2 linked regions of the Homo sapiens genome follow. The protein of the gene in region 1 purifies or fractionates together with the protein of each later gene. This does not show direct contact. Each region holds a gene or a part of one and is shown in the gene's direction. Other genes may lie near its edges. The genes, in order: PCCB and MCCC1.

The links.
Region 2: the proteins of PCCB (region 1) and MCCC1 purify together in Homo sapiens (affinity purification with mass spectrometry; 2 studies listed by BioGRID and IntAct, with this or other methods). This does not show direct contact.

The regions. Positions count from the first base shown.
Region 1 is NC_000003.12:136,321,698-136,332,719, forward strand, and holds the end of PCCB (propionyl-CoA carboxylase beta chain, mitochondrial isoform 1 precursor), read left to right. Parts: intron 1-4,628; coding exon of another isoform or gene 4,629-4,702; exon of another isoform or gene 4,703-4,717; intron 4,718-5,105; coding exon 5,106-5,213; intron 5,214-5,457; coding exon 5,458-5,558; intron 5,559-5,936; coding exon 5,937-6,035; intron 6,036-7,060; coding exon 7,061-7,160; intron 7,161-8,207; coding exon 8,208-8,329; 3' UTR 8,330-8,472; downstream 8,473-11,022. UniProt on the Homo sapiens protein: This is one of the 2 subunits of the biotin-dependent propionyl-CoA carboxylase (PCC), a mitochondrial enzyme involved in the catabolism of odd chain fatty acids, branched-chain amino acids isoleucine, threonine, methionine, and valine and other metabolites.
Region 2 is NC_000003.12:183,031,930-183,042,951, reverse strand, and holds part of MCCC1 (methylcrotonoyl-CoA carboxylase subunit alpha, mitochondrial isoform 1 precursor), read left to right. Parts: intron 1-1,201; coding exon 1,202-1,385; intron 1,386-3,816; coding exon 3,817-3,926; intron 3,927-5,517; coding exon 5,518-5,734; intron 5,735-8,874; coding exon 8,875-8,961; intron 8,962-8,967; exon of another isoform or gene 8,968-11,022.

The DNA.
Region 1 (11,022 bases):
TGGGTATTACAATTTGAGATGAGATTTGGGCGGGCACACAGAGCTATCCCATACCAATAGTATTTTGTTTTAAATTTCAGATTCTACTGGTTTATTGCCAATATATAGGAAAGTAATTGATTTTTGTATATTAGCCTTTTATCCTGCAACCTTGCTATATTATTAGTTCCAGCAGTTATTTTTTGGTCACTTCTTTCAGATTTTCTGTATGGACAATTTTGTCATCTGTGAACAAAGACAGTTTGATTTCTTCCTTCTCAATGTGTATACGTTTTATTTTCTTGTCTTCCTGCATTAGCCAGGACTTCCAATACAATATTGAAAGATAGTGGTGAGGGGACATTTGGTCTTAGCAGGAAAACTTCTAGTTTCTTACAAGTAAGTGTGATGTTAGTTGTAGGTTTTTCATAGATGTTCTTTATAAAGTTGAAGAAATTCCCCTCTATACCTAGTTTATTGAGAGTTTTTGTCATGAATGTATTTTGGATTTTGTTACATGCTTTTTTTGTATTCATATGATCATGTGATTTTTCTTCTTTAGACTGTTGATATGATAGATTACGTTAATTGATTTTTGACTGTTGAACTAAACTCACATACCTGAGATAAATCCCACCTGGTTTTGATGTGTAATTCTTTTTCTGCATTGTTGGATTTGATCTGCTAATATTTTGTTGAGGATTTTTTCATATATGTTTATGAGCAATATTGAGATATAGTTTTCTTGCAATGTCTTTGTCTGGTTTTGGTATCAGAGTGATGCTGGACTCATAGAATGAGTTAGAAAGTATTCTTTCTGCTTCTGTCTTCTGGAAAAGATTGTAGAGAACTGGTATTAATATCTTCCTTAAATGTATGGTAGAATTCACTAGTTGAAACCTGGGCTTTATTTGCTTTTTAAATTATGTAGGAAATAAAAAGTGAAGTTAGAAACCAAAATACTCAAATCCTGGTTTTTATATTTGCCCATGTAGTCATCTTTACTTGAGATATTTATTTCCTAATGTAGCTTTGTGATACCGTCTAGTGTTCTTTTCTTTTAACCTGAAGGGCTTCCTTTAGCATTTTTCTGTGGAGTAGGCTGGTTGGTACTGAGGGCCTCAGCTTTTGTTTATCTGAAAATGTCTTAATTCTTAAATTTTCTCTCATTTTTGAAGGACAGTTTGCCAGATATAGAATTCTTGGTTGACACTTTTATTCTTTTAGCATTTTAAATATGTTATCCTGCTGTCTCTGGCTTTCAGAGTTTCTGCTGAGAAATCACTGGATAATCTTAATGAGGATTTCTTGTAAATGATGAGTTTTTTTTTTTTTTTTTTGCTGCTTTTAAGATTCTCTTTTGTCTTTCAGTAATTTGACTATAATATGTCTCAGTGTGGGTTTCTGAATGTATTCTTCTTAGAGTTAGTTGAGTTTCTTATATTTCTAGTTTCACATCTTGCATCAAACTTGGGAAGTTTTCGGACATTATTTCATCAGATTATCTCCTTGCCACTTTCTCTTAGTCTTCTCCTGGTGCTCTTATCCTGTGTATGTTGGTTCACATGTGGGTGTCCCACAGGTCCCTTAGGTTCTGCTCATTTAATTTTTTTATTTTCTCCTCAGAGTAATTTCAATTGTTTTATCTTCATATTCTCTGATCTTTCTTCTGCCTGCTCAAATCTCCTATTGAATCCTTGTAGTGAATTTTTCATTTCATTTATTGTACTTTTCAGCTCCAGAATTTTTCATTATTTTCCTGATTTCCTTTAGTTCTTTGTCCATGTTTTCCTTTACCTCTTTGAATATATTTAAGACTAGTTTAGGCTGGGCATGGTGGCTCCTGCCTGTAATCCCAGCACTTTGAGAGGCCAAGGTGGGCAGATCACCTGAGGTCAAGAGTTCGAGACCAACCTAGCCAATGTGGTGAAACCCTGTCCCTACTAAAAATACAAAAAATGAGCCGGACGTGGCAGAGGGTGCCTGTAGTCCCAGCTACTTACGAGGCCGAGGCAGGAGAATCACATGAACCTGGGAGGCAGAGCTTGCAGTGAGCTGAGATGGCGCCATTGCACTCCAGCCTGGGTGACAAGAAGCAGAACTCCATCTCAGAAACAAAACAAAACATCTCAAAAAAAAAAAAAAAACCCACTAGTAGTGTTTTATAGTCTTTTTCTAGTAAGTTCAGTGTCTATGCTTACTTAGGGATAGTTTCTTCATTTTATACCTTGTGATTTTTTTAATTGAAAATGGGGTATTTATACATTATAATGTGGTAACGCTGGCAGTCAAATTTTCCTCTTTTCCCAAGCTTTGTTTTTTTTTTTTTTGATATTTAATGTCATATATGTTTGCCTAGTGTCTTTTTGCAATGACTTTTCCAGAGACTATATTTTTTGTCATTTGTGGTCACTGAAGTCCCTGTTTCTTCTTATTGTTTCTTTCTTTCTTTTGAGACAGGGTCTTGCTCTGTTGCCTGGGCTGGTCTTGAACTCCTGTCCTTAAGAGATTCTCCCAAAGTAGCCTCCCACAGTGTTAGGATTACAGGTGTGAGCCACCATGCCCAGCCTGTTTCTTAACTTGTATATTTGACAGAAATTTTCTTGAACACCAGGAACTAAAACCAAGAAACAACAAACAAGAAAACTCCTGGTCTTGAAATTGTCTCTGTGTTGGGGCTCTCCTTTGATGCTTAGCCAAACTTGAACTAAGGTTTGAGATCAGCTCAAGGTTAAAGTTTAAGGTTTTCTCTGGTCTTTTATTTTGTAATAGTGTTTTCATTTTCATTCAACTTCTTTTCTTATTTCCCCTCTCAGATCTTTTCTGATCGTGTATCTCATCCTAGGCATACATGTGTCTTTCTGAATTCTCCCTATTCACGGGTGCTTTTGAATGCACTAATTTCCTAAAGACACTCTCTGTTTTTTTTTTCTCCCATATCTTAGGTGGTTTCAACAGTAATCTTTTGCCCAGACATCTGCAGGTTGTTCCTCTACCTTACCATGATTTAAAGAAATGCCTGCTACATTTCCAGCCTGGATAAGTTCTGAGTTAGGTGAAACAGAGATGTGTTCCTTGTGTCAGTCCTTCAGGCAGCCCACAGACAGGTTAGAGCAGACATATGCGGAAATTTGTGAATGAGGTCTGCTCTGCTTCCTCCAGAACCAGGGAGGAAATGGGACAAGTGTAATTAAAAAGGCACAGAGCTTTCATACCATTTTCTTTTATTTTTTTGAGACAGAGTCTCACTCTGTCACCTAGTCTGGAGTGCAGTGGCATGATCTTGGCTCACTGCAACCTCCTTCTCCCAGGTTCAAGCAATTCTCCTGCCTCAGCCTCTGAGGTAGATGGGATTACAGGTGTGCACCACGCTCGGCTAATTTTTGTATTTTTAGTAGAGACAGGGTTTTGCCATTTTGGCCAGGCTGGTCTTGAACTCCTGACCTCAGGTGATCCGCCCACCTTGGCCTCCCAAAATGATGGGATTACAGGTGTGAGCCACCACATCTGGCCATTTTTTTTTGTTCTTTTAGAGACAGAGTGTCACTATGTTGCCCAGGCAGGTCTCAAACTCCTGGGCTTAAGCAGTCCTCCACTTTGGCCTCCTGAGTAGCTGGGACTACATTGTCTTTTTATTGTTGATTTCTAGGGCCTGGCTTGTGACTTGCCTATTTATTTCCTTTCCTTTCCTTTTTTTTTTATTTGAGATGGAGTCTCACTCTGTTGCCTAGAGTGGTGGTGCAATCTTGGCTCACTGCAACCTCTGCCTCCTGGGTTCAAGTGATTCTCCTTCCTCAAGCCTTCTGAGTAGCTGGGAGTACAGGTGCCTGCAACCACGCCTGGCTAATTTTTGTATTTTTTAGTAGAGATGAGGTTTCACCATGTTGGCCAGGCTGGTCTTGAACTCCTGACCTCAAGTGGTCTGCCTGCCCGACCTCCCAAAGTGCTGGGATTACAGGTGTGAGCCACTGTGCCGGGCCATGTTTTTATTCATGAATGGATATTAAATTTTTTCAGGTATTTTCTCTACATCTATTGAGATGTTCATATAGTTTTTTTCCTTTATTTAATAATTTCATTAGTTTTCACATGCTGAAATCAACCTTGAATTCTTGGGATAAACCCCACTTGGACATGATGTATTACTGTTTTTTTGAGATGGAGTGTTGCTCTGTCACCCGGGCTGGAGTGCAGTGGCATGATTTCAGCTCACTGCAAGCTCCGCCTCCCGGGTTCACACCATTCTCCTGCCTCAGCCTCCCAAGTAGCTGGGACTACAGGTACCCGCCACCACACCCGGCTAATTTTTGTATTTTTAGTAGAGACAGGGTTTCACCTTGTCAGCCAGGATGGTCTCGATCTCTTGACCTCGTGATCTGCCCGCCTCGGCCTCCCAAAGTGCTGGGATTACGGTCATGAGCCACCGCGCCTGGCCTACTGTTTTTGTATATATTGCTGGACTTGATAATGTGCCTTACTTAAAAAGTAAAAATTTTTCATTTATGTTTTTGGTCTGTATTCTTTTCTGATGATGGTCCTTGTCTTGCTTTGGTATTGGGGTAATACTGGTCTCATAGAATTAAGTTGGAAACTCTTCTAGGAGGGGAGATTTACTAGTAATTGAGCTCCTACTCTGTGCTGCTTTATAGATTCCATTTCCTTTACTCCTTGGAACTATGCTAGGAGGCAGTATCGTCCCTACTTTGCAGGTAAGGAACCTTAGGTCAAAAGGCAAAGTAATTTCTCAAGGGCACGTTGCCATCATCAGTGGAGCCAGAATCTGATTGGAAGCTCTGAGGACTCTCTAAGACCAGCCCTTGAATGCTGCCTCCCACTGATGGCTCCCTGCGGCAAGGCCGGCTGTGTCTCAGCTGGCGGCAGCCCTTTGGTCTGTAGTGAGTCTGTAGTAGTCTAGTTCTGGGCCTCTTTGGCCAGTGACAGACAGGTGGATTCTTCATCTTCCCTGTTTCCTGGAGTTTGAGGGGTCCTTGTTACCATTCTGCAACAAAGAAGTGTTGGTGCCTCCACAGAAACCAGCTTTGGATGGCTGCTGAGGACAAATCCCCATTGTGGATAGAACTGGGAATTGCCTGGATACTCAGTATGGATAATCTCTCTCTTTCTAGGATGCTTGGATATTAATTCATCTGTGAAAGGGGCTCGTTTTGTCAGATTCTGTGATGCATTCAATATTCCACTCATCACTTTTGTTGATGTCCCTGGCTTTCTACCTGGTAAGTTTTTGACAGAGTGGGGGCTAGGAGAGTTGCCTTTCCCAGTAAGGTGCCCACTTTATTTGGAGATCTTCTTGCAGAACTCCCCGAGGACTTGTGACTTCTCCATGTATTCTGGGTGTCCAGAAGATAGGGCTGTGTAAGGAATGGCCCTCTCCAGAGGTGGGAAAGACCTCACAGCTGAGAGTGGCAGGATAACCATGTGAGGACTTGTGGGTATCTAGTAACTCTTCCTCATGTCTAGGCACAGCACAGGAATACGGGGGCATCATCCGGCATGGTGCCAAGCTTCTCTACGCATTTGCTGAGGCAACTGTACCCAAAGTCACAGTCATCACCAGGAAGGTGAGGACCTCATGTTGGAGGCCATGACCCTGCTCACTTTCCTACAGCATAGCCGTGGTGGGAGGTCTGGCAGAGTTTTACCAGGGCTGGAAGGAGTACACCTTGCTCATCCTTAAAAAGATCTCTTGAGGATGTTGTTCCCAGCCCCGCAGAAATGTCTGTGCTTTTTTAACACAGGGGAACTGAAGGCAGTAGTGGGAAAAAGCCAGAAAAGATAATGAGCATTAACTTTGAAAGGTCTTACAGACCGTGGGCCTTCAGGAGCCCAGTAGGGCTATTCTTGTTCTTTGTCCCAATTTTACCTGGTTTCCTGGGGTCTTTCAGGGACATGATCTGGCTGTCTCAGGCTCTAACACTCAGCATTTGGATCTGTTTTAGGCCTATGGAGGTGCCTATGATGTCATGAGCTCTAAGCACCTTTGTGGTGATACCAACTATGCCTGGCCCACCGCAGAGATTGCAGTCATGGGAGCAAAGGTGAGGGCCTCTTGCTTTTCCCTTTCTGGGTCCAAGGACTCGACTCTACCAGCGAGAGCTCAAGGCATAGCTGGGAAATGTTGGAGAGAGGCCAGGGCCCCTAGGTTGAGCCAGGACTGAGGTGAATGGGACCTAGACCTTGGTAAGTCTCCCTCTTGGGGCTCCAGAGATAGCTCTGCCTCCTGTCCTATACCCTTTCTTCAGGCCCACGCTGGTGTCTTCATGCCAAGGTGGGTGCGGCAGGTGAAAGGAAAGTGAGAGGGGTCCAGAGTGGTTTTGAGATTGTAAGTAAAGGGGGCAAAGGGTTGAGTCAACTGAAGTCACCTTCAGAAGTATTGGACATTCTCCCAGCTCCACCTCAGCTTCCAGGGAGGGCCCCAGAGCTACTCTTTTAAGCTCATAAGAAGCTAAACTGTAGGTCCGACCCTAGTGACGTTGGACAAGGTACTTCCTATTGCTTGACCTATTCCTCACTCCTCCCTGCTTTGAAGTAGCTATTGTGGTCGAATCAGATAACTTCCAGGTCCCCTAGAGTTGACTTATAGGTGCTCTGACTTGAAGGCCAATCCTTCTAATTTCCAGTTCAGTCTGGTCGCCTCTGGCCACCGAATTGTATACTCAGGTCTTAGGGTACCGAAAAAGGGAAATAGCACATTTAATTCCCCTTGATACAAGACCATGGATTTAATAATGGAAAACAGGGCTAACATCTTTGGCTCAAAGAAATATGATGAGTGCAAATGGAGATGGTAGAATGGGCTCTGGGGAGAGAAGCTACTGGCTTTTGCCTGACTGCCCCTTATTGGGGCCACAGGGAAGCATCACATCCCATCATGCAGCCCCTTGTGTCATGATGGTCAGCCCCAGGCAGTTCCTCCCTCTATGCTATGGCCTTTAGAGATGGCACTTCCCCTCAGTACACTGATTTACCAAGAAATTTGCACCCACACACAGTGATAATGAGTTGAAGGAGATCTGTCCAGGTTGGGACGACCAAAGATGTTCATGAACTCCTCTAATCACAGGGCGCTGTGGAGATCATCTTCAAAGGGCATGAGAATGTGGAAGCTGCTCAGGCAGAGTACATCGAGAAGTTTGCCAACCCTTTCCCTGCAGCAGTGCGAGGTAGGGGACTGTGGTGAAGAGGGCAGCTTTGTTTGTTTGGTCAACTTGCTCATTCTTTCTCTACAGAAATTGTCACATAACTGCCTTTTTGCCTTTGCAGTCTAATCTGTTGACTAGTGAGGGTTGGGACTGTCCCTGGGCAGTCATCACTTGGACTAAGGACTGTGGGACAGGCTGCTTTGGTAACCACAATTAAAACAACATTGCCAAAGTGTATTAAATTTCTAGGTGTTGTTCCAGTTGTCTAGTGCTGTGCAGAAATTCACCCTATAACTCAACAGCTTAAACTAACCACCGTTTCCCCCACTGCTTATGGTTCTGTGGGGTCCACAATTTGGTCTGGGCCCAGCTGAGTGGTTCTTGTGCTGGTCTTGCCTGGGATCACCCACACAGGTATAGTCATTCTGTGGCTTGACCGGGGCTTGACAGTCCAAAATGGCGTCACTTACTTGGTAGTTGCTGTTAGCTAGACTCACTCCCCACGTGGCCTCTCACCCTTGAGGAGGCTAGTCCAGGCTTCCTTACATGGTGTCCCGAGAGTAGCAAGGGGGCAAAGGGAAACTGAGGCCTAGATTTGGAAGTTGCACAGTGTCATTTTTGCCACATTTTATAGGCCAAGAAAACTCAACAAGGTTAAGCGAAGGAATACAAATCCACCTCTTGAAGAGAGAAGTGGTAAAGTCACATTGCAGGACTTGTGTACAAGGATGAATTGTTATAGCCATTTTTGAAAACCTAGATGTATTTTCTTTATTTCCTATTGAATTCATTGTGGCAGGATGGAGGCATTGGAGCAAGCAGGGTATAGGGAGGGTGTCCGATTTTCCTTTTCTTGCCAAGTGCTCCTAGGCCAGAAGTTGGGGAGCTGTCAGAACAGGCCAGCTCCTGGGATACAAGGGGGAATTCACAGGGCCTACCATCTCTGTATCAGGTTGGGCACTGCTTATACTGCTGGCCCCAGGGATGGTGCCCAGGCTGAGCAGAAGGTTGAGGGGTGGCATCATCTCGGGATGCAGATGATCCACTCCCTTTTCTGTGCTTCACCAGGGTTTGTGGATGACATCATCCAACCTTCTTCCACACGTGCCCGAATCTGCTGTGACCTGGATGTCTTGGCCAGCAAGAAGGTACAACGTCCTTGGAGAAAACATGCAAATATTCCATTGTAAACAAATCAAAGGAAAAGAAACCAAGAACTGAATTACTGTCTGCCCATTCACATCCCATTCCTGCCTTTTGCAATCATGAAACCTGGGAATCCAAATAGTTGGATAACTTAGAATAACTAAGTTTATTAAATTCTAGAAAGATCTCTTTTGTGCCTTACTGTAAAATTATTTACTTTTTTAAACATTTTAAGTTGTATTTTTTGAGCATAAATTCGATTTTTTTAGGTGGAAATCTGAAAAATCAATACAACTAGAAAGAAAAATAGTACACAGTGTTATCATCTAGAGCTGATTTTTATTTCACACCTCTGGGTATTGTTCTTTTTCCTCTCGAGTTAGTTTTTTTATCCATAGGTGAGATATATAGTAAGTTTTTAAGGCAAAGTATTTCTTAGGCTTAAGTTTCCTTATTTTAAAAATAGGGTAATATGCCCTATCTATCTCCTAATTCCTCCATGAATTGAGGATTAAATGTGATGTTTGCAATTGTGGTATATGTGTTTAGCAGTACAGATGCTCAATAAGGCATAGCACCCTATGTTGACTCAGGTTATTTCCAGAAATGTGTTCTTAAAATTAAAAAAAAACTTTTTAATTGCGAAAATTTTCAAGCCGATAGAAATGTTGCAAGAAGTGTATTGTATCCACTTCACCTAGATTCTCCAGTTGGTAACATTTTCTCCATTTGCTTTATTTCTTCCATACGTAGATATATCTAATAATATATAATATGCATATAAGATATATCTAATTATATTATTAATATAATTAATGTATAATTATATCTAACATGATTATATATATTTATATATTTATATTATGTATTTATACATTATATAATTATATAATTGTATAACATATACAATATAATTATTTAATTGACCCCTTTGAAAGTCAGTTGCAGATTCGTGACCCTGTGTTCCTAGAAACTTGTATCTCCTAGGAACAAGGTCCTTTGTCTTACATAGTCTGTCGTTCATGACGTTGACATTTTTGAGGAGAGCTTACTTGCTGGTTATTTGGTAGAGTGTCCTTCAGTTTGGGATGTCTGTTTCCTGAGGTTTAGATTCAGATAAGACTAACACATATTCCTTTCAGTGCGTCACATTAGTAAGCACATTATGTCAGTTTTTCCTCCTGTTGGTAACTGATTCTGATCACATGGTTAAGGTCGTGGCTGCAAAGGTTTTTCCATGGTAGTTACCATTTTCTCTTTGTAACTGATAACTAATTTGTGGGGTATTATTTAATCTTGTCTGTCAATAAACTTTCACCTGGGCCAGGCGCAGTGGCTCATGCCTGTAATCCCAGCACTTTGGGAGGCCAAAGTGGGCAGATCACCTTAGGTCAGGAGTTTGAGACCATCCTGGCCAACATGGTGAAACCCCATCTCTACTAAAAATACAAAAATTAGCCGGATGTGGAGGCACATGCCCAGCTACTCAGGAGGCTGAGGCAGGAGAATCGCTTGAACCTGGGAGGCGGAGGTTGCAGTGAGCCGAGATCACACCACTGTGCTCCAGCCTGGGTGACAAAGCTAGATTCTGTCTCAGAAAATTAAATAAATAAACTTTCACCCAATAATTTTAGTATTCATTGATGATTTTTGCCTCAATCAATGATTCTGCATTGATTATAAAATGTTGAGTTTCTAACTCTCTCATATTTATTAGTTGGAACTCTAGGTAAGGAAGGGAGCTTTCTTTTCTCCTGTTTTTGTTTTCTTAGTATCATTTTGGACTTGATTTATTTTATTTTATTTATTTATTTTTTGAGAAGGAGTCTCGCTCTGTCGCCAGGCTGGAGTGCGGTGGCGCAATCTCGACTCACTGCAACCTCTGCCTCCCAGGTTCAAGCAATTCTCCTGCCTCAGCCTCCCGAGTAGCTGGGACTACAGGTGTGTGCCACCATGCCCAGCTAATTTTTGTATTTTTAGTAGAGACGGGGTTTCACCATATTGGCCAGGATGGTCTCGATCTCTTGATTTCGTGATCTGCCCGCCTCAGCCTCCCAAAGTGCTTTTAATATATCCCACTGATTTTTTTAGTATTTCGTTATTTTCTGACAAGATAATGCTCTAGGCTTATCTTGTATTTTCCTTGCCCAGCCCAGGAATCAGCAGTTTCTCCAAGGAGTTTCTTTAATAGGTATGTAGTAGTAGTATATAGTAGTTTCTTAGTTTCTTTTAGTAGGTATGTCATTTAGAAGCTAAAATTGGCACTAGGTATTCACACTGATACTGGATATCATTGCTTTGAGGCATTTCAGCAGACAGAACTAGGAAAATTTATGCAAATAAGTGTGTGTATATATATGTGGGACACATGTATATATGAATACATATTTATCATACTTTTAAATCATGAGTTCATACTGAAACTTTTAATCCAACACCATGGGTGCTTCTTTGCCTTCCCCCATTCTGTATTGTCTCTCTTACCACAGCAGTAATAACCCTGGCTCCCATTATTCTCAATATATTTCACTCATTTGCTCAGTGCTACCATAAATACAAGTTTCAGAATCACTACAGCTCTATCAACAATAAACCTTCTAAAGTTCACGACTTCTTTGTAGTTCATTTTGTCTTTAAACTGAAGATACATGGTTAAGCTACCTCAATTAGTAACTGAGTGGTTATCAATATGAATTAGTCCTTTTTGTTTGTAAACCACTTTAAAGCCTTTCCTCCT
Region 2 (11,022 bases), about 47 Mb from region 1:
TGCAATAAACATACACATGCATGCGTCTTTATAGTAGAGTGATTTGTAATCCTTTGGGTATATACCCAGTAATGGGATTGCTGGGTCAAATGGTATTTCTGGTTCTAGATCCTAAGGATGGAATGATAATAGGTAACATAGTGCTGACTGTATGCCAGACACTTTTCTCTGAAGCATGGAAAGCTTAAGAAACTTGTCTAGATGACAAAGTAAGTATAGAGACAAAATTTGAACCTAGGCAATCTGTCTGCAGAGCCTGAGGTGTTTTCAAAATATACTGCCATAAAGGTATTTAACTTAGTTCCGTTTCCTTTCATTCTTAACTGCTGTGCATCCTGATCTTTCATATTTACAGATTCAGAAAAATGAAACTTTTGCTTCTGTTTTATACTTACCGGTTTAGTTCAATGTCATGCTAAGTTACTTAGAGTCTAGATTTTCCTGTATCTATATTGCTTTCTCAGGTTGTCATTTTCTCATCTTGGAAAAAAACTTAAGAGTAAAGAGAGAAAGTGCAATGTGTCCTCCAATAGCCATTTCCAATTTATACTAGTTAATTGAAGAGAGTGATTTGTTGTATTGGTACATAATAACTAAAATAGTAATAATTATAGTAACAACAAACAATAGTGATCACCCTGTTTGTAATCTGGTATCATGCAGTACATATCAACATAACAAAATTGAAAAACCATCATTTTCCCCTTTCTGTTTTGCTTTATCACCCACTTACTGGTGAAGATTACAGCGTAGGATGACAATGTCAGCTACACTTTTTGCTTGGCTGTGAATCTAGTCCTAAACACTAATAATATACTATTTTTTAAAAAAAATTGATTTGGGAATTAAGTGCTAATGTTTTAAATGAAAACTGAGAGTGTGTTGCTAGTAAGAAGTTTTGGTTTTGATTATATTGAACAAACACTGATTTTTATATTTGTAAGTTAGCCATCACTTTGCCTGCTTTTGCCATTTAAAAACTCCGATACCCCAAATGATAGACTGTTGCCAAGCTGCATCTGTTTTTTAATTTTTTGTTTTGCCCAATACTCAAATGAGTAGACAAAATAATAGTTTTTATTTGGCTGCATTGCAAAACCTAAATGTACATTTTACCTAGAAAAAAAGCAAGACCATTGATTTACTAAGTCTGGTAGCCGCTATACGGTAGATTTCATAAGAAACACTATTCTATTGCCAGATTGCAGCAGGAGAGAAGATTCCTTTGAGCCAGGAAGAAATAACTCTGCAGGGCCATGCCTTCGAAGCTAGAATATATGCAGAAGATCCTAGCAATAACTTCATGCCTGTGGCAGGCCCATTAGTGCACCTCTCTACTCCTCGAGCAGACCCTTCCACCAGGATTGAAACTGGAGTACGGCAAGGTAAAGTGAAAGAAAATGAAAAGTCTCACTCTTTTTAAGTTTTTAGTACATTATTGTTTTTGGACACATTCTTATCCCTGAGTCTTACAGAACTGTCTAGCATATTTTAAAATAAAGAATTTAAGTGATTTCTCAGTAACCATTACTTTTTGCCTCTGGAATTGTTATTTTTAAAGAATAACAAGTATTTTTCAACAACGGACTCCTTTTTTTTGAAATTCAGCAGTACTTGGTCAAACCTAACCAGGAAATATTTTGTGTGTACTGTTCTTGACCTTGCCTCATTCCAAAAATGATTTAAGATGACTGATATCTGCTATGCACAAGGCAGACTGCCTTCAAAGGACATAAAGTCAAGTTGGAGAATTAACACATAAACTTAGTATAAGCTAAACAATAAAAAAATTAAAGTAAAGAAACAGTGGAAGAGCTATCACAGTTCAGCATATGATTAATAACAGTGGTCATAACTAGTGATTATTTAGGACTTCCTACTTACAGGCACTGCTCTAGGTGATTTTTCTACTTGTGTTCCTTTCACCATGAGAAGTACCCTGTAAGTAGGCATTATTATCATCCCTGTTTTCTAGATGAGGAAACTGGAGCACAGAAGAGTTAAGTGACTTGTCCAAGGTCATCCTTGGAGCCAAGATTCAGACCCAGGCAGTCTTGCTCCAGAGTCAGTGCTCTGAGCCTCCACGGTCTCCTGTCATCTTAATTTCAATTGCTGGAATAAGTTATACAGTGATGGGATATAGCAATTCTCAGGGGTAAGAGGTCACACTAGACTGATATAATTAGGACAAGTTTTTTGTTTGTTTGTTTTTTTGTTTGTTTTTGTTTTTGAGACAAGGTCTCACTCTGTGCCCAGGCTGGAGTACAGTGGTGTGATCTCAGCTCACTACAACCTTTATCTCCCTGACTTAAGCAGTTCTCAGGCCTCAGCCTCCCGAGTAGCTGGGATTACAGGTGTATACCACCATGCCTAGCTAATTTTTTTTTTTTTTTTTGTATTTTTAGTAGAGACAGGTTTTCACCATGTTGGCTAGGCTGGTCTCAAACTCCTGGCCTCAAGTGATCTGCCCACCTTGGCCTTTCAAGGTGCTGGGATTACAGGGGTGAGCCACCGTGCCTGGCCAGGACAAGTTTTTAAGAGGATGTCTGGAATGGATTTAGATAGGTAGATTTAAACAGCATAATGAAGAGTGAAGAAAAGAGAAAAAGGTATGTTTGAAGAATAGTAAGAAAATATATGACTGGAGACATGGGTTGAAGGCAAATCCTAGTGTCCTAAAAGCCAAAATGAGGATTTAGATCTTCTTAAAAATAAATTGGCAGCATTTTGAGAGCTCTGGATAAGCCACAGCAAGATTTGGTAGTTAGTAGACTTTTTAACTTAGCAAAGCATCTTAACTCTGCTTGCCCCACCGGTTCCTTCCTTTTTTTTTTTTTTTTTTTTTTTTTTTTTCTGAGATGGAGTTTCACTCTTGTTGCCCAGGCTGGAGTGCAATGGCACGATTTTGGCTCACTGCAACCTCCACTTCCCAGGTTCAAATGATTCTCCTTCCTCAGCCTCCTGAGTAGCTGGAATTACAGGCACCCGCCACCACGCCCGGCTAATTTTTTGTATTTTTAGTAGAGACAGGGTTTCACTATGTTGGCCAGGCTGGTCTTGAACTCCTGACTTTGTGATCTGCCCACCTCGGCCTCCCAAAGTCTTGGGAGTACAGGCGTGAGCCACCTGTAGGCACCTCTAATCTTATCAACGAGGACTCTGGGGTTCAAAGAGGTCAAGTGACCTGCCAAAATCCTGGAAAGACCCTGCAACAACGTTCTTTTCAACACACCACATCCTTTCTACTTGAACCATTTCTAACCAGTGGAATGTGCCCTGGTTCAGATTCTTGTTCTCTAGGACTGTAACCATCCCAGTGATGATAGCTGCCATTGGTTTATCAGTTTTGCCAGGTATGGCACTTGTCACTTTATTGTCACTCCTCCCAGCAACCCTGCAGGACAGAGGAATTATTAAACTTGCTTGACTAGTACGGAAACTGAAAGAGTGGAGGGGAGGGGAATGCTAAGGGCAGAAATGAGGGGAATGTGAGAGGGTGGAGGGAGATTGTGTTGACTTTGAAAATGAGAAGGGAAAAGAAGATTCAGAAGAAGATAGGACAGGGAAAGCCAGCTTGTGTGCCATTGAATCACCACGTTAGGGCCTGGTGCTGTTGGGTGGCCCACCTCGTTACACCTGGTGAGTTTTCAAAGCCCTCTGAACCTCAGGGTCCTCATGAATAAATTTGTGTTGTTATTTATCATGCAGGGGTTTATGAGGATTAAGCGTGAAATGTACATAACAAAATGTCTTGCTCGTTGTATTTTATTCCTTCGTGTTTTGACTTGAAGAGGTTACCGTGGTTTTCAATTTCAGGAGACGAAGTTTCCGTGCATTATGACCCCATGATTGCGAAGCTGGTCGTGTGGGCAGCAGATCGCCAGGCGGCATTGACAAAACTGAGGTACAGCCTTCGTCAGTACAATGTGAGTGATCTGAGACCGTGCCAGTGACCTTGATGTGTTTGGTCAGCACCAGAGGTCAGCCTTTGTCTTTGGCAGGGCCTTGGTCTCGTCAGCATATTTTCTATTTCCATCAATTGCCCAAACAAAATAGTTTCACATGGGAGAATTTTGCGTGGGCCAGAACAGGGTTTGAGGACTTCTTCATTTCAGTTACAAAAGAAAGATTGCAGAAGTAAAATTGTTAGTGTCAGTGCTATGCTTCGGTGAAATCCTATTCACTCTGTAGATAAGGCCAGCTATACATGGTACCTTCGTAGGTTTTTTATTTTTCCTAAGAGCTGTCCACAGTAGAAAATACTTAGGAAATAAAAGCAGATGTTTTCCTGAATGTTGTTTTCGCTACCCAGTATGCCTGCAGTCCAGTAGTTTTTCTCTAAAGTAAAATAATTATGTTCAGTTTCATCCCTTTAATAGAGTTTGTTATTTTTCTGTAGAACATTAATTTCCTTGGTGCAGAAAGTCCCATACCACATTGATTTGGCTCATAGAAGGATTTATTAACCCAGTTATTCAACTTGTTATTGTTAATAATTGATCAAAGCTCTGGTCTCTGTGGCTCCAACCACACTGGCCGCCTCACCGCTTCTGAGACTCACTCAGCATGGAGCCATGCATTCCTGTCCAATCTTCCAGAATGTTCTTCCCCCACATGATTGCAGGGCTCCCTCCTGACTACCCTGCTCTCCTGCTCTGAGCCCTTTCCCAGGCTGCCCCATTTAAAGTATGACCTTTTGTTATTCTTTATCCTCTTAGCCAGCCTTCATTTTCTTCATAGCATGTAACATTATATTCAATACCTGTTTACAGATATTGTTACTTGTTGCCCTAGAATGTAAGCAGAGACTGTGAAGGCAGGGACATCATATGTTTTGTTCCTCACTATGTCCCCAGTGCCTGGATCAGAGCCTGGCACTTAAGAGATGCTCAGGAAATGGCTGTTAAATGAATGAAGGAATGGATGAGTGAATGAATGAACCCAAAGCTCAGATAGCTGGTTTTACTTTTGATCCCATTTATTGGTGTATTTGGGTTAATTTTATACCTTTTAAAATTTTTGTATCGGTATATAAAATTTGGATTTTATTGTTGGAAAGAAGCTCTTTTGAGGGCATTTAATCCTATCCTCTCCCCAGTATAGCAATCCAGCTTGCTGTTTGCAGTCTTCCTATTCTGTGGAAGTGTTCTGAGCAGCAAGTCTTCGATACCTTGCAAATGAATTTCATTTATGTTTCTTAACATTTATTATGTTCCTAACCTGAGTCAAGTAAGTGCCTCGGTATTTCCAGCATCCTCTTTGTCATATTAAAATGTAATTTTTAGTGTCAAGTCCAGATGGATATAGTAATAGCGGATGGACATAGTGATAGTGAGATGGTTTTTTTGTGTTTTTTTTCCTGAGAATTGTCCTGTTGCCACATGGTACCTTAGTAGGTTTTTTATTTTTCCTAAGAGTTGTTCACAGTAGAAAATACTTAGATAAAAAGAGCAGATGGTTTTCTGAACATATTGTTTTCCCCACTCAGCAGGAACTGGGGGTTTATTCTCTTCCTAGATTGTTGGACTGCACACCAACATTGACTTCTTACTCAACCTGTCTGGCCACCCAGAGTTTGAAGCTGGGAACGTGCACACTGATTTCATCCCTCAACACCACAAACAGTTGTTGCTCAGTCGGAAGGCTGCAGCCAAAGAGTCTTTATGCCAGGCAGCCCTGGGTCTCATCCTCAAGGAGAAAGCCATGACCGACACTTTCACTCTTCAGGCACATGGTATGGAAGGCTTTTCTCTTTCCTCTGCTTGTCAAGTTTTGCAAATCATCATTGAACATGCTTTTCTTTCTGTATGGCACACTGACCTCTCTTTTCTCCTCTCAGTGACTGACACCATTCTTTTCAGATGTGTTTTTTAGTATGAAGGAAAGCTCTTCACTTACCATGGATGCACCCATAAACACTATTTAACCCATTAACTGGAGTGTAACTAATCACCTAACATTGTAGAAATGGATCTCTTTGGCCAGGCGCGGTGGCTCACGTCTGTAATCCCAGCACTTTGGGAGGCCAGGGCGGCTGGATCATGAGGTCAGGAGATCAAGACCATCCTGGCTAACACGGTGAAACCCCATCTCTACTAAAAATACAAAAAATTAGCTGGGCGTGGTGGCACGTGCCTGTGATCCCAGCACTTTAGAAGGCCAGGGTGGGCGGATCATGATGTCAGGAGATCAAGACCATCCTGGCTAACATGGTGAAACCCTGTCTCTACTAAAAATACAAAAAATAAGCTGGGTGTGGTGGCACGCACCTGTAGTCCCAGCTACTCGGGAGGCTGAGACAAGAGAATCGCTTGAACCCGGGAGGCGGAGGTTGCAGTGAACCGAGATCGCGCCACTGCACTCCAGCCTGGACAACAGGGCGAGAGTTCATCTAAAAAAAAAAAAAAAAAAAAAGGAAATGGATCTCTTTTCAGTCAAACACTTGTTCTCCCCACATCCTACACTAATTTCTTATCACTTCTTTTGTTCGCCACTCCTCATAGCCCTACTTTGTTTTGTCCTCTGTACCTGCAGCAACTCCCTTTGTCCCAGAGTCTCAAGACAATCTAAGACTGGAGACTTAGATTCCCCAGGGTTACCCATGACTTATTGTCGAATTACTTCCGCTTTTTCCATCCTGTGATTGAATGTCTACCTAGAGACTTCATAGTGTCATAGAATCCAAGCATAGGAAGGGCCATAGTGGGGTTCATCCTGGCTACCACACATATGCATTGCATCCCTACCCCAGCACACCCACTAAGCTGTTGCCCAACTTCTTCCTAACACCTTGGGAAACTGGAAGTTCATTACCTCATCAGGTAGCTTACAGTTTCAGTCAGTTCTCCATTAGAAAGTTCTGCCTTTAAACCAAACACCGCATGTTCTCACTCATAGGTGGGAATTGAACAATGAGATCACTTGGACACAGGGTGGGGAACATCACACACCGGGGCCTGTCGTGGGGTGGGGGGAGGGGGGAGGGATAGCATTAGGAGATATACCTAATGTAAATGACGAGTTAATAGGTGCAGCACACCAACATGACACATGTATACATATGTAACAAACCTGCACCTTGTGCACATGTACCCTAGAACTTAAAGTATTAAAAAAAAAAAGTTCTGCCCTTTAAATTGATACAAAATCTCAGCTCTCACATACTTTTTGCATTTCAGGCTAGCTCTGACTTTCGGAGCAAACAGAATTTTTAAAAATCTGATCTATTTTTCTCTTTTATTGGTAATTATTATATTACCCTATACAGTTTGAGCATCCCAAATCCCCAAATCCAAAATGCTCCAGAATCGGAAGCTTTTTCAGCACTAACATGATGCTCAAAGGAAATGCTCATTGGAACAGTTCAGATTCCAGATACTTGGATCAGGGATGCTAAGCCAGTTAAATATAATGCAAATAATCCAAAATCCAAAAAAAAAAAAAAAAATCTGAAATTCAAAACACTTCTGGTCCCAAGCATTTTGGGTAAGTGATACTGAACCCGTATTATTATAGGATCCTATCATTAGAATCTTTAATTTCTGAATTCATTTAGATTCATTCAAGATAGCTGTATGGAAAGCTTAAAATGTAAAATGTTTTAAGTCCCGAAAACTGCATCTTTAGAAGATTTGTGCTCTATCCTCATTTTATCCTTTTACATTGAATGAAAATGCATCTAAATACGTCCCATGTGGTATTCCTGAGCCTGACCTTAACGTTTTTAGAATGGAACGTTGTCTTACTGTGACCTTCCTTTTGAAAGTTTATAATTGGTACAGATATGAGGTTCAGAATAAATTGCATCAGCTTAGCTATGCTGAAGCTCCTGGATATTGTCCAATAGAGGATATACACCCAAATGCCTATAAGGGGCCAGGCGCGGTGGCTCATGCCTGTAATCCCAACACTTTGAGAGGCCCAGGGCGGGTGGATCACTTAAGGTCAGGAGTTTGAGACCAGCCTGGCCAACATGGTGAAACCCCATCTCCACTAAAAATAGAAAAGTTAGCCAGCTGTGGTGGCACCCACCTGTAATCCCAGCTACTCTGGAGGCTGAGGCAGGAGAATCACTTGAACCCAGGAGGTGGAGGTTGCAGTGAGCCAAGATCATGCCACTGCACTCCATCCTGGGCGACAGAACGAGACTCGTCTCAAAAAAGAAAAAAAAAAAAGGCCTATAAGGGCTGGGCCAACAACATAAAAACATAAAAGAGTAAAAGAGGCCAGGTGAAAGAAAAATAGTGAATAGTAGAGACTGGTGACCTGGAATGAATTTGCCCCATCAAAAGGTGGTGACTGTGGTACAGTTTATGCCACTATGGGATTAGAGTTTAGATTGCAAATATTCAGATTCTTCAATAGAAGCTAGAATTTTTCACATGAAATTTCATAAGATGTAAACAAAACCAGCCCTTTAAACTTAACAAGAAGAACAAAAAAAGCACATCTGAGCTGCCAGTTTAGGACGTGTGTTTTTTTGTTTTTTTTTTTTTTTGAGACGGAGTCTTGCTCTGTCGCCCAGGCTGGATCCGGTGCAGTGGCGCAATCTTGGCTCACTGCAAGCTCCACCTCCCGGATTCACGCCATTCTCCTGCCTCAGCCTCCAGAGTAGCTGGGACTAGAGGCGCCCGTCACCATGCCCAGCTAATTTTTTTGTATTTTTAGTAGAGACGGGGTTTCACCGTGTTAGCTAGGATGGTCTCGATCTCCTGACCTCATGATCCGCCCGCCTTGGCCTCCCAAAGTGCTGGGATTACAGGCATGAGCCACTGTGCCCGGCCAGCACTTGCATTTTATGTTTTCTTTTGTAAGGTGTAAATTTCATAGGCTTGATACTCATAAGTTTGTTACTGAATTTTAAATTTTTTCTAGATCAATTCTCTCCATTTTCGTCTAGCAGTGGAAGAAGACTGAATATCTCGTATACCAGAAACATGACTCTTAAAGATGGTAAAAACAGTAAGTAATGTTTCATTAAAAGAGAAATGTGAGTCATAGAAATGTATCACATTAATCTGAAAAAGAGGATTCCAGCCTGGCCATGATCAGTCAGTTACATTTTTTAAATGCCTAGGCTAAACATTGGAGGGAAATATGCCAATATAATAGAATTGATTGGCTCTGGGTAGTAGAGTTGATGGTATTTGCTTTTCTTCTTTACACTTTTTAAAAATTTTGTAAATATTCTAAAAATATGTCATAAAATAAACATAGCAAAACAGCTGAAATGAAATATGCCAGAATGTTAGAAATATGCCCAAAAAAACCTCTTTTTCCCCAATTCTTTGTACTTTTTTTTTTGCTTTGCAATTTTTCTGCAGCGAGAATGTATTACTTTTAAATAAGAAAAACAGTTTTCAAAACTATGTCAGAGAGGGACGATTACCCACTGCCCATGCAGTGTTTCAGGGGTTTCAGGTGGAAGTGGGTCACTGCAGAGCTGTAATTTATTAAGTGCCTTATCTGATGTAAGTTTTTATCTTCACAACGTAAATGAGGGGGAGTCGCTGTTATACCCACGTATGGAAGATGAAAGCATGGATGGTAAGGCACAGAAGTGAAGTAGTTTAGTCAAGGCTAGTGAGTGGCAGAACTAGGATTCACACCTACTCTTTGTGACATTGACTCTTAGGCTGTTTCCACCACTTTTCCAGTAGAAAATTGATTTTTGATTGTAAACTAATTTGAGTTGGCTCGACTTAGTGACTGATTTTCTTTAACTGATGTCAAAAGAGGCTGACGCTTAAGCCAGAAGGCAGTTTATAAACTTTTGGCTGGAGCAGTGTAGCAGCAGGACCAGAATTCTATGATAGCTGGTCACTGTATCCCTTCTGCTGTGAGACAGTTTGTGTGGGAGGCCCAATGGGCAGAGTCAGAGCTCAGAATCCTGGCTAACCTTGAATGTGACATGTCATTGAACTGTGACAGTTCTGGTATAAAAATATGCCTCCCAGGTAGAGCAGAATACTTTCACCAGCTGATCACAGAACGCTCTTCCTTGGACAGAGGAAAATCTCTTTTACTTCACCTCTATGAAGACACTCACCCAGTAACAAATTTTTTTTTTTTTTTTTTTGACACAGACTCTGGCTCTGTTGCCCAGGCTGGAGTGCAGTGGCACGATCTTGGCTCACTGCAAGCTCCACCTCCTGGGTTCGTGCCATTCTCATGCCTCAGCCTCCCGAGTATCTGAGACTACAGGCACCCACCACCACGCCCGGCTAAGTTTTTGTATTTTTAGTAGAGACAGGGTTTCACCATTTTAGCCAGGATAGTCTCGATCTCCTGACCTTATGATCCACTCACCTCAGCCTCCCAAAGTGCTGGGATTACAGGCGTGAGCCACCATGCCAGCCAGTAACAAATATTTTGTTCACACAAGTTTATTGGGTTACAGCTCTTCAGTTATTTTTCAATCCTGAGCCTAGATGGTCATTATCTTAAGTGCATTGGGCATATTGTTAAGCCTTTATAATGAAAATTTGTAAACATCTTTATATAGTAGCATTCTGCAAATGGTTAACCCATCCATTTATGCTCATTTCATCCTAAAAAATACAACCCCCCAAATCTGGAAGTATCTTATTCTAGACTCCTATATGCTGAATGCAAATATCAAAAGCGGTAAAGTTTCACTGGCTTCTTCAACCTGAATTGAACAGAAGAATTACATATTTGATTGTAATTCATATAGGCCAACTGTGTTATTTGGCATGGCTCTTCACTAAAGCACCAAGCACTGATTTGAAGTATGTTGCATTTTTTGGAATTAAAAAAAGTTTTCATGAAAAAATAAATACATAATTGAAAAGCCAACATGATTGCTGTTCACTACACCCTTTTGGCAGTATTCTATGAAAATAATCCAAGTCTGTATGTAAGAGCTTTCAGAAAATGATACATAGCTAAGTCTCCAAAAAATGCTAATAAGCAATGACCACAATTAAATAGAATGCATGAAACAGGAAGCTTAAGAGACCAGGCTGGTCACAGTGGCTCACACCTGTAATCTCAGCACTT